2 separate regions of the Homo sapiens genome follow, and region 2 is linked to region 1. Evidence: fine-mapped expression QTL. A gene starts in region 1. The other region holds a variant in brackets. All regions are shown on one strand. Distances are from middle to middle.

Region 1 (5,369 bases):
ACCAGCAGCCTGGGCAACGTAGAGAGACTCCATTTCTAAAAAAAAGGAAAAAAAAAAAAAAGTTAACGTTAGCCGGGCATGGTGGCACACTCCTATAGTCCCAGCTACTTGGGAAGCTGGGGTGGGAGGATCGCCTGAGTCTGGGAGGTCGAGGCTGCACTGAGCCATGATCATGCTACTGTACTCCAGCCTGAGTGACAGAGCAAGACCCTGTTTCAAAAAAAAAAAAATCTTTTGTGAATTGTGTTAGAATGAGTGAGTCGTTCAAGCCTGGCAGCTCTGGCTGCTGGACAGAGGCTCTGAACCAGCCAGGTTGGGTTGTGGATAGTCCCTTGAGATAGTTCTCTGCCCACTGACCTTCCTCTGTGCCTAGGCTTCTCAAAGTATAGACTTGCGACTGGGCTCAGACTAACCACATCAGTACCACCTGAGAACCTGATAGAAATGCAGATTCTCCTGCCCTGTCCTCTGATCTACAAAATTAGAAACTATAGAGGTGAGCTCCATGGTTCTGGGAATTAACAAGCCCTCCAAGTGATTCTGATGCATGTTCAAGTTTGAGAACCACAACTAGTTTCCCTTTCATAATAGTTACTACTTTGCAAGGAGTCGGATGGGGTTAAGGTAACAGGTTGAGAAATTCATAATATCGTGCAGGCGGTCTTTTTATAAGTTGAGTGAGGACTGGATCAATGACTCTCAATGGGAAAGGCCAGGGGTTAGGGAGGAACCTCCTTGCATTTGGAAAATCTCGAGGAGGGGTTAATTTGCAAAAACAAGTTTTAAAGTTATAGTTTTGCTTCCTAGACCTGATTTTTAAAAATTTATTATTTTTTTTAGAGACAGGGTCTTGTCACATTGCCCAGGCTGGTCTCGAACTCCTGGCTTTAAGTGATCCTTCCCCCTTGGCCTCTCAAAAGTGCTGGCATTACAGGCATGAGCCACGGTGCCCAGCCCTTAATTTATTTCGAAGGCTGGTGTAATATAAACATTAAAGGAAGGTGTAATACAAACTGCCATCCATTATTGATTGTTTTAGTGTCTACAAGGTTTGGATCCCACCTCCTGTCCAATTCTCATCCTCAAACACAAAAACAAAACCAAAAAAACAACTGTCTATCTACACACACACACACACCCTCGGCTGGCCTGAGAGGTAAAAGAAACATCCCATAGGACCTGCTGAAAGAGCTCCTGAGGCACGCTGGAGCCTTTCTTGTGTGCCATGCACTGTATCTGGCACTATAAAGAGGGTACAATAGCTAGTGGCTTCTGCAATCAAGCAGCTTACAAGAGAAAATTGAGAGGGGAGACATTTTTTCTGGTTGACAGATGTCGAAAGCATGAAGGTGTGGGAGCTTTGATCAGAGACTTGGTTTTTCAGTTTTGCCAGATAATAGAACGCATGGGGTGAACTAATGGGAGAGGAGGGTGAACAGATGGGCAAGGCTTGATTGCTGGGTTAGGAGGCACAGAAATGCACAGAGGACAAAGGACTACCAGTCCTTGGCAGTACTGTACTGCTCCATGGCCACTACCTGGGTCCAGGGCCACATTCAGATCTGAGGTTAGATAGTAAGAATTGCTAACATTTATCCAGCGACCACATGTGCCAGTAATCAATCTAGGTGCTGTACATGTATTAACTGATTCTTCATAGGAACCCTATTAAAGAGTTATTTGATGAGGAGAGTCGGGCATTCACTGGAAATCGAACGTGCCCAAAGTCTCACCCTAGACCGTGGTGGAGTCAGAATTTGAATCCTGGCCACTTGCTCCGAAGCCACCGACAATTCAGTGTGCTGTCCCCCGTGTCTGGGCTGGCTTGGTGGGCTGGGAATGGCGGGGGAATGGGACACTTATTTTGGCAGGTAAATGTGGTTCAGAAGAAAGCTCTTCGTCTTTCTCCAAGCCTGAGCAATCGTTTTGGCGCAGGCAGTCCAGAGTAGAGCGCTTTGTGAGCCAGCTACAGAAGTGCTGTAAGCCCCTTCCCACTAGATGGCAGCCCCTAAACCCACATACAAATCCTGGAACCTCCCTGGTCCCCATCTTCCAGGGCTGGGCTGCAGCTGAGGAACTGCGGGACGCACACCCGCCGGGCGTCCAGGGGGCGCCGCCCCATCCGGGGGTCGCGGGAAGCTCCTAGGCCGGGTGGGGGACGGAGGCGGACGGGGAGACGCTGCTCCCCCGACTCTCGGCGCCTGGGGGAGGAGCTGGCGCGGAGCAGCTCCACCCGGGGCTCCCGGTTGGGGCCGGCCCTCACCGCCTGCCTCGCCGCGGCCGCCGGGAGGGGAGGGGAGAGGAGGGCAGGGAGGGCGGCGCGGGCGCGGTCCGGGGCCCCGAGGGCGGAGGCCGGCGGCAGGTGCGCGGCGTGGACTACAAGTCCCAGCATGCCCGGCCGCCCTGACCCAGCCCCCGCCGCCGCTTAAAGGCTCCGGGAGCCGCAGCCGTCGGGTCGCCGCGGCTTTCGCTTTGCTGCCGCGGCTGGGAGGGTGGAAGCGGCAGACTCAGCGGCCGGCTCTACCGGCGTCCCGGCTCGGGCAGCGCCGAGGGGCGCTCCTGGTCCAGCTCTCCTGGCTCGGGGGTTCCTTGCCGAGGCGCCCGCGCCCCGGGCTCCCAGCCTCGGCCGCCGCGGCCCCGATGCCGAGGCATGGATAGAGCAGCGCTGCGCGCGGCGGCGATGGGAGAGAAGAAGGAGGGCGGTGGCGGGGGGGATGCGGCGGCCGCGGAGGGAGGCGCAGGGGCCGCGGCCAGCCGGGCGCTGCAGCAGTGCGGGCAGCTCCAGAAGCTCATCGACATCTCCATCGGCAGCCTGCGCGGGCTGCGCACCAAGTGCGCTGTGTCCAACGACCTCACCCAGCAGGAGATACGGACCCTGGAGGTAAGTGGGTCGGGGACCAGGCTGGGCTCGAGGAGCGGGCCCGGACACCTCCCTCCGGGCCCCAGTACTCCTGGCCGAGTTGCATCCTTGAGCCCGCGTCGCCCCCCTTGGAGGCTTCCCCTCCCTCCTGCACTCGCTGATGCGGCAGCCGGAGGACCCGGGACCAGCCCTCATCTTGGGCAGGATTTGTGGGGCGGGTGCGTCGTGGGAACTGGGATGGAGGCTCGAGGGGCCCGTGCGGGGTGGGCTGCGCGCGGACATCCCCTTTCCCCCCTTCTCCGCCCCCACCCCATTTCCAGTTTGCGGGGCCGCAGGACTCGTTGTCCCACCGAGTCACAAGCTGGACTTTTCCCCGTGTGACTGAGCCGAGCACCCGTGGGCCAGGGTGACGGAGGAGGTTCCCCTGAAGCGTGATCGCAGGCCTGCCGTCCCCTGTTCCCCTCACGCCCCAGACGCCGTCCTGTCCCTTCCTTTCCTCTCCTCTCAGGTCTTGTCTGCCGCCTTTTCAAAAAGTGTTGCTGAAACTGCATTTTTGTTATTCAGGCGTTTGGTGCTTTCCTTTCACGTTGCCACGGAGGCTCGCTGCTTAAAATGTATTAATAATTACCCGCTGACTCCCCCTGCTTCCCCCCAAAGATTGGATTTAGGCTTAGGAAGGATTATGCTGGGAAGCAAGCCTTTGGTGGGAAGATGAAACTGTTTAAAGGGTTCTGATGGAGACAGTCTGGAGTGTAAAGAAGAAATAAGATATGCGGGCCTTCCTCTCTCAAATTATAGCTGGGGAAGTATCTGAAGGATTTGGAAAAACCAGCCCGAGGGTTGTTGGGGCACCCTGTCCATACACAAATGAGGGCAACTAGTGGATTCTGAATGTGATTTTGGCCAGGGACGGGGCGGTGAAACGTCAGACCAGTTAATAGCTGCCCCGTCTTGAAGAAGGAACCTCTCACCATCTTGCCCTGCCACATCTGGCCTCCTGCAGGTCTGGGGATGTTTTGTTTTATTAGATCCTCAATTTCTCCTCCCCCAAACCCTCCCCCCGCCCCTTATTGCTAATTGCCTCTGCCAGCTGTCATAAGGCCCTCTGTGATCGCGGTAATTATTACAAGACCAATCCTTCCTCCAGGCATGCCACAAAGCCGAATCCTTGTTTGATTCCAAATGCTCGGGGGTGACTCTCCCTCAGTTTTATTTTCTTAAAAGCTATAAAACCACAGGACATTGGAAGAATACAGTCAGTGCTGGGTATTATTATTTTTTATTACAGTTGGCTAAAGCTGTACTGACCAAGGCTTTGCTTAAAAAACAAACAAAACCCCCTACAACTGGCCTTTCTGCATGCATGCTGCAGTTTTCCAAGTATTGAGAGAAACTGATTTTTTGAACACAGCTGAGTGTGTTTGCTCAGCAAAGTTCAGTTTTTAAGCTGACAACAATAGGGGGCCTGTGAGGCTCAGTTCCGGGAGGAGGGGTCGCTGTCTGGCAGAGTGTGCGTGGTTGGACTTCGGTGTTGCTGGGCTTGGAGAATGCTCTCTGTGTTGGCCTCTGTGGGATTGTCCCCACGTTGCTCTGAAGTGCTCCTGGCTTCCAGAGTGTGTATATAGGAGAACCACTTGCTGTGCATTCTCTGGAATGGCCTTTTGTCCTACCCTAACTTCCGGAGTCCCTCATTTTGATGGCAGTGTGGCGTTCATGACACCCCAGAGCATCCAGCTATTTAAGTGTTGGAGCTGGTTTATTCAGTGGCTTCCCTCCTGAGTGTTTGTTTAGACGATCATCCCTGGCAGCAGAGAACCCATCCAAAGGCCCACAGGGGATCTGCAGCTCCCTGTTCTTCCCACCGTGATGTGGATTCGGGTTCACTCCACTTCCTGAAAAGGCAGGGCCTGGGTTGTTTTGGGGGATGGGAATTTAGACCCCTGGAGTGAGTTCCATGGGGCTGCCACCAGCTAGTTTAGATGAGTCACTTCATCCCGGAGGCCTCAGCCTCCTCACCTGCAAAACAAGGAGGCTGGAGTGGATCTCTGAGGGCTCTGGAAGCTCGAAATTCTCTAGGTTAGAGAAGGAGACTTGGTTGGGTGAAATCAAATGTTTGTGATTGTTTTTATACTACCCTGGTTTAAGAATAACCCTCTTTAAGAATGGTTCTAAAATCCAGATTTACTGAACCCATAACATAGGGGTTAAGTTTATTAGAAGAATCTTTGCCATAGGAGCAGCGTGGTGAATAGGAAGCCCCATGGCTTTCATACTGGGCCTGGGTTCTGTCTGTGTGACCTTAGGCAAGTCCCATGACTTCTGAATCTCAAGCTCTCCTGTCTGTAAAATAGGAACGAGACTGCTCACACCTGCAGCATTTTGTCTGTCAGTCCGTGCTGATACTACGAAAAGAGTCTGCCTGGCAGCTGCCCCTAGTGAGGGTCCAGTAGCATTTATGGCACAGGCCACCACTAGGGAAACTTAACCCCTACTGGACCCTTGCTAGGGA
Region 2 (5,369 bases), 72 kb after region 1:
CAGACATTCTTTGCCAACACAATTAATTACAAGAGAGCCACCCCCAAAGTCTTAGGGTGAATTGGGAAAGGGCCGGTTAAATGAGGAAGCAGGCCATTCCTTGGTAAAAGTTTGTAGTTTTTTTTCCCAATACATCTTCTCTTTATTGAGAACTTCATTTTTATCCTGTGTTCCTCCTCTGCCATCTCACACTCTCGCTCTGTCTGCTGGATTTTGGCCACAATGCACCTCATTCATTTGTATCAGTTGCAATTGTAAGATGGACATTTGTTGATCATGTTCAGTCCTCGTGCATCTTTTTTAAAGCACCTTCCTGAGAGATTTTGCTCATGTAGTTTTTATTGGCTGTTATTCTGACAGCTGAACACGAGGGTTCAGGTTGAGAGGTCCTCTCACGTGTTGGAAAACGTATGAACTCTTTCTCATCATCGCACAGTTCTCTATTTGAAACAGCAAATGATTCTTGGGCCGTGGCGTGGTATTTGGGCTCCTCCTCCGGGGGGAGGGGTGGAAGGAGTGCTCTGCAGGAAGTAGAGCTGCTCCAGCAGCATGCTGGTGATCTCCTTCCCTAGGACTTGGTTACTCAGGAGGGGGCTGACGCTCCCTTTCACCTTCTCTCTCCTTTCATGGGCCATAATTGTTTTAGTCCAAGCCTTGATGTTCTCCCAGCCCTTCTTCAGCTGTTTGAAATCCGGCAGGGACAGCTCGGCTGAGAGTTGCATTCGTGGGTCAGCGCCTGCAGGTACATTGATTGCTTAAGGGCAATAGTTCACACATCACTTTTCTTACATTCCAGCACATATTTGTACTTTTCTACTAAAATCAGCAGGGTACTCTTTTCTAGTTCTGAGAAGTATTTGGCAGGTTTTATAATTTCATTGTTTTGCATTTTCCACTATATTTCCCCTGGCCGCCAGCTATCCTGTAATCCCAGCTACTTGGGAAGTTGAGGTAGGAGGACTGCTTAAGCCCAAGAGGTCAAGGCTACAGTGAGCCATGTTTGCACCACTGCACTCCAGCCTGGATAACAAAAGGAGACACTGCAGTGGCACACCCGCCCCCCCCCCCCCCTTTTTTTTCTTTTTTGAGACAAAGTCTTGCTCTGTCACCTAGGCTAGAGTGCAATGGCGTGATCTTGGCTCACTGCAACCTCCGCCTCCTGGCGATTCTCCTGCCTCAGCCTCCCGAGTAGCTGGGACTACAGGCACCAGCCACCAAGCCTGGCTAATTTTTGTATTTTAGTAGAGATGGGGTTTTACCATGTTGGCCAGGCTGGCCTTGAACTCCTGACCTCAAGTGATCCACCCACCTTGGCCTCGCAAAGTGCTGGGATTACAGGCGTGAGCCATGCCCGGCCTGACTTCTTGTTTGGGGCACAAATCAGACTGTATAAGAATCATGAGAAAAACAATAATATCTTGGGCTTTCACCAAATGTTTTATCCTGGTCAGCAGTATCTTTAGAAGACACAAATTTTCATAGTTTCTTGATTTTAGGATATATTTCATAGTTTAATATTTCTGAAATTGGGAGGCTTTGTACGATGTCTTTAATGTAGTAATTCTTTGCTCTCCCCAAATGCTGTTATTACATTGATTATGTGTCTCATAAATGAACATCCCTACCTCTTGTGGGTCATCCAGGATGGAATTTGTTTTATTGGTCAGTAGAAAAGGCTATGACCTAATTAGTGTATCGAGTAGGTATTCTGTGTAAGTTAATGCATTTATTTTGTTTTTTATTATTTTTGAGATGAAGTCTCACTCTGTTGCCGAGGCTGGAGTGCAGTGGTGCCATCACGGCTCACTGCGACCTCTGCCTACTGGGGTTCAAGCAATTCTTGTTCCTTAGCCTCCTGAGTAGCTGGGATTACAGGTGCGTGCCACCATGCCTGGCTAATTTTTGTATTTTTAGTAGAGAGAGGGTGTCACCATGTTGGCCAGGCTGGTCTCAAACTCCTGACCTCAGGTGATCTGCCCACCTCAACCTCCCAAAGTGCTGGGATTACGGGTGTGAACCACTGTGCCTGGCCAAGTTAACACGTTTAGTCTTTAACACATTTGGTCTTTGGAAGAAACTGAAGCTCAGGAATGGATCAGTAATTTGTTAAAGGTCACACCGCTAGAAAAGAGTGGATCCAGTATGTGAGCCCAGCTCTGTCTAATCATGATGTTCAGTTCTTTCTCCTTCCCAGGAGAGACCTGTACTTCTTCACTTCTGGCTCCTGCTGTTTTTTTAAGCTGAGGATGTCCTCTTCTCTTCCTATTGAAACTCCATTTCTGGGCCAGGCATAGTGGCTCACGTCTGTAATCCCAGTGCTTTGGGAGGCTGAGAAAGGAGGATCTCTTGAGCCCAGGAGCTTGAGACCAGCCTGGGCAAGATGGTGAGACTCTGCCTCTACAAAAATTAAAATAAAAAAAGTTAGCTGGGTATAGTGGTGTTCACCTGTAACCCCAGCTACTCAGGAGGCTGAGGTGGGAGGATTGCTTGAGCCTGGGAGTGTGAGGTTGCAGTGAGCTACGGTCATGCCACTGCACTTCACCCTGGGTGACAAGAGAGACCCTGTCTCTACTGGAAAAAAAAACCACAAAAATCCCAAAACAAAACTTACACCACCTGTTCCCCAAAAACCTATTGGATAAAAAAACTCCATTTATTATTCTTTCAGTTTGGATAACATTTTATGATTATAAAAATGACACCCGTTCTTTAAAAATACAAAAAAGTAAATAATAAAACTTTCCAGTGTTTACATTTTGAGATGTTAATTTTGCTATAAAAATAGAAATTGACCTCAAAGTTGAAAAAAGAAAATTAATGCCTTAAATTAAAATAAAAAAGATATGTGAAGATCATACTGCAAATGTAGTTTTCTTACCTTGAGTTGTTAACTTTCTAGAAGATTATGGGCATTGCCTCATATGATTAAGTACACTGTTAAAAGGGACTTAAAAAAAAAAAGTTGCCTCATAGTGTTCTGTGATTGACACACCAGAATGTAGTTACCTACTTCCCCATGTTTGGCTATTTTAAGTTACACTTCCGTGAATAGGCTTATGCTTACACTTAATTGTTTCTTTAGGATAAATTCCTAGAAGTGGAGTCTGGCTCAAGGGGTGAGGGCC[A/G]CCTGGTGAGGCTTCTGTTGCATCATCCTGTTTCTCTGCTGCCCTCCAGGGGGGCGATGCCGCTCCACGCTCCTGCCATGCTCCTGCCACAGCCACACTGGGGAGTCCCTCTGCCAATGTTGCCAAACATCTGCCCATATGTTTCCATTTTGTATTTCCTTGCTTATTATTAAGGTGGGAGGTTTGTTATGGTTGCCGGCAGAGGTAACTTTCCTTTGAGATAAACATGTATATTTCCTTGGCCTGTTTAACTGACTTGTTTGTGCAACCCCAGTCATTCTTCAAGACCCAATTCAAAGCTCATCTTTTCCATGAACTCTTTCCCGACACCCGTCTTTTCTCTGAAGCTGGAAGCTTTAATTTTCATATCTGAATTCTCACAGCCTGTGTGTATCTGAAAACCCTTGTCAAAGACACTTTTGCATTGCAACTTGATATCTTTGGCCCCCACTTGAATCTGAGGTCTTTAGGGTAGGAGATGGGTCATTCATTTCTGTGTTGTTTGCAGGGCCTTGGCACCATACTGGGTAACTAGTGGGTACTCGATACTCTTGAATGGATGGATAGATGGACACACACTGTTCTTAACAAACCAACCAACCCATCCCACACCCGTCAGCAAAATGAGTTTAATGCCACCTTATGAAATTGCTCTCTTCCTTTCCGCATCTTTGCCTTTGGAATCAGTGAGGTTTTGCTCCATCTAAAGACCCAGCAGGGGCTGGGCGCAGTCCCAGCACTTTGGGTGGCTGATGTGGGTGGATCGCTGGAGCCCAGGAGTTTGAGACCAGCCTGGGCAACATGGTGAAACCCTGTCTGTACAAAAAATACAAAAATTAGTTGGGTGTAGTTGTGTGTGGCAGTGGTCCCGGGTACTCAGGAGGCTGCGGTGGGAGGATCGTTTGAGCCTGGGAGGTCGAGGCTACACTGAGCCGTGATTACACCACCGCACTCCAGCCTAAGCAACAGAGTGAGACCCTGTCTCAAAAGAAAAAAAAAAGACCCAGCAGGGCAGATGGAGTAACCAGCAAAGCCGACCTTAGTGGTGAGGCTGGGCATGGCGGCCTGAGCAGGGATCGGCTCCAAATAGTACGTCTACCGTGGGCTCCTGGACCTTTCTCCCTTTGCTAGAAGAGAAGCACCAGCACCCTCCCTTTTCCTCTTGTGACATTTTAAAATGTATTATTCCCATTCATAGCCTTATAAAATCAGTACGCAGTAATTAGAGAACATTTGGAAAACACAGAAAAGTAGAAGGAAGAAAATAATTACCTATAGCCTTCCCACTCAGATCAGCCCATTCACAGATGACATTTCTGCTGTGTTTTCTTTCAGTTGTGTTTTCCAGGCAAAGACTTTGTGTGCGAGGTTTTGCTTACGTAGTTCTTGCCATCCATCATGTAGATTTTTTTGTCCTGCCTGTCGCTTAGTAAAATAACACAAAAAACTTCCTATGTTTTTGTAAACCTGCTCAGTGGCTCTGTCATAGTTTAGTAAGTGGTTTTACCATCACCTCCTTAGCTGTGCTTCCATTGTTGGGGCTTTGGGTTGTTTGCACTGTGTCCCTCTTGTAAACAATGTCGGGATGGACAAGTTTGTGCTGGGCGTTTCCTTGTCCCTTTGGCTGGTTACCTCAGGCAGACTGGCCCATACCAGCCCTTCCCCGCTTCATTCTCCTCCCTTGGGGCCAGTGCCCTATTCGCCTCTCGGTTTGTGTTTCTCAGTCTCCATGTGTAGCAATATGTTGAGAAACAGCTTCCTTTTTCAGGAAGAAAGCTCAAGATGTTGAACCTCGAGGAGGCTGTGCACAAAGGTGCAGAGTCCTGCCTGCTGGGTCATGGCCTTGGCACTGCAGGGCGGCCCCCTTCTGCCTCACAGGCCCAGGGTTACAGAAGGTGCAGGTGACGGGGAGGCCACGCCTTTGAAGGGGCTGCCTGGCAAACCTTTTCCCCTGACAGTAAGCTGAGGGGGTGGCCCTGGTCACATGTTGCAGGTCTCTGGAGGGGGTGTAGTGAATACCTGAGTCCATTTTCTGCCTGGTCCCACACTCGGATCCGTCATGGAAGATCTGGCCCCTGTGTTCTGTGGGCGAGTGCTTGGGGGAGAACCCCTCCTGTGGGGCTGCTGAGATGTGTGCTGTGCTGGAGGTGGCTTCAGCCCTGCTCCTCTGAGCAGCTGCTTGGGGCATGCTGTTGAGCTCCAGAGAGCACTTCAGCATATAGCCAGCAGCGCCCTGAGGAGCTG

Which allele goes with the higher level. Alleles are on the strand shown, and positions count from the first base shown. SD is a standard deviation of normalised expression in the study named.
For the expression in monocytes of the gene that starts at base 2,455 in region 1, G is the low allele of the variant in region 2 and A is the other (moderate effect, 0.64 SD a copy in Quach 2016).

What was found. PIP is the estimated chance that this variant, and not a neighbour inherited with it, causes the effect.
Region 2: its variant is fine-mapped to the expression of KSR1 in monocytes (TOPMed, PIP 0.97). The same link has a PIP of 0.9 or more in blood mononuclear cells.

What each region holds. Positions count from the first base shown.
Region 1 is chr17:27,453,994-27,459,362 of GRCh38, forward strand. KSR1 (kinase suppressor of ras 1) reads left to right here and starts at 2,455. Exons shown (of 21, transcript NM_001394583.1): 1 at 2,455-2,881. The coding sequence starts at 2,651. RefSeq lists silencers at 1,985-2,744, 3,265-3,314 and an enhancer at 2,120-2,621.
Region 2 is chr17:27,526,335-27,531,703 of GRCh38, forward strand. All of the region lies in intron 1 of KSR1 (kinase suppressor of ras 1), which reads left to right. It also overlaps the pseudogene MSANTD3P1. Among named protein-coding and RNA genes, the nearest start is that of KSR1, 73 kb to the left of the region's middle. The variant A/G (reference allele first, on the strand shown) is at 3,126.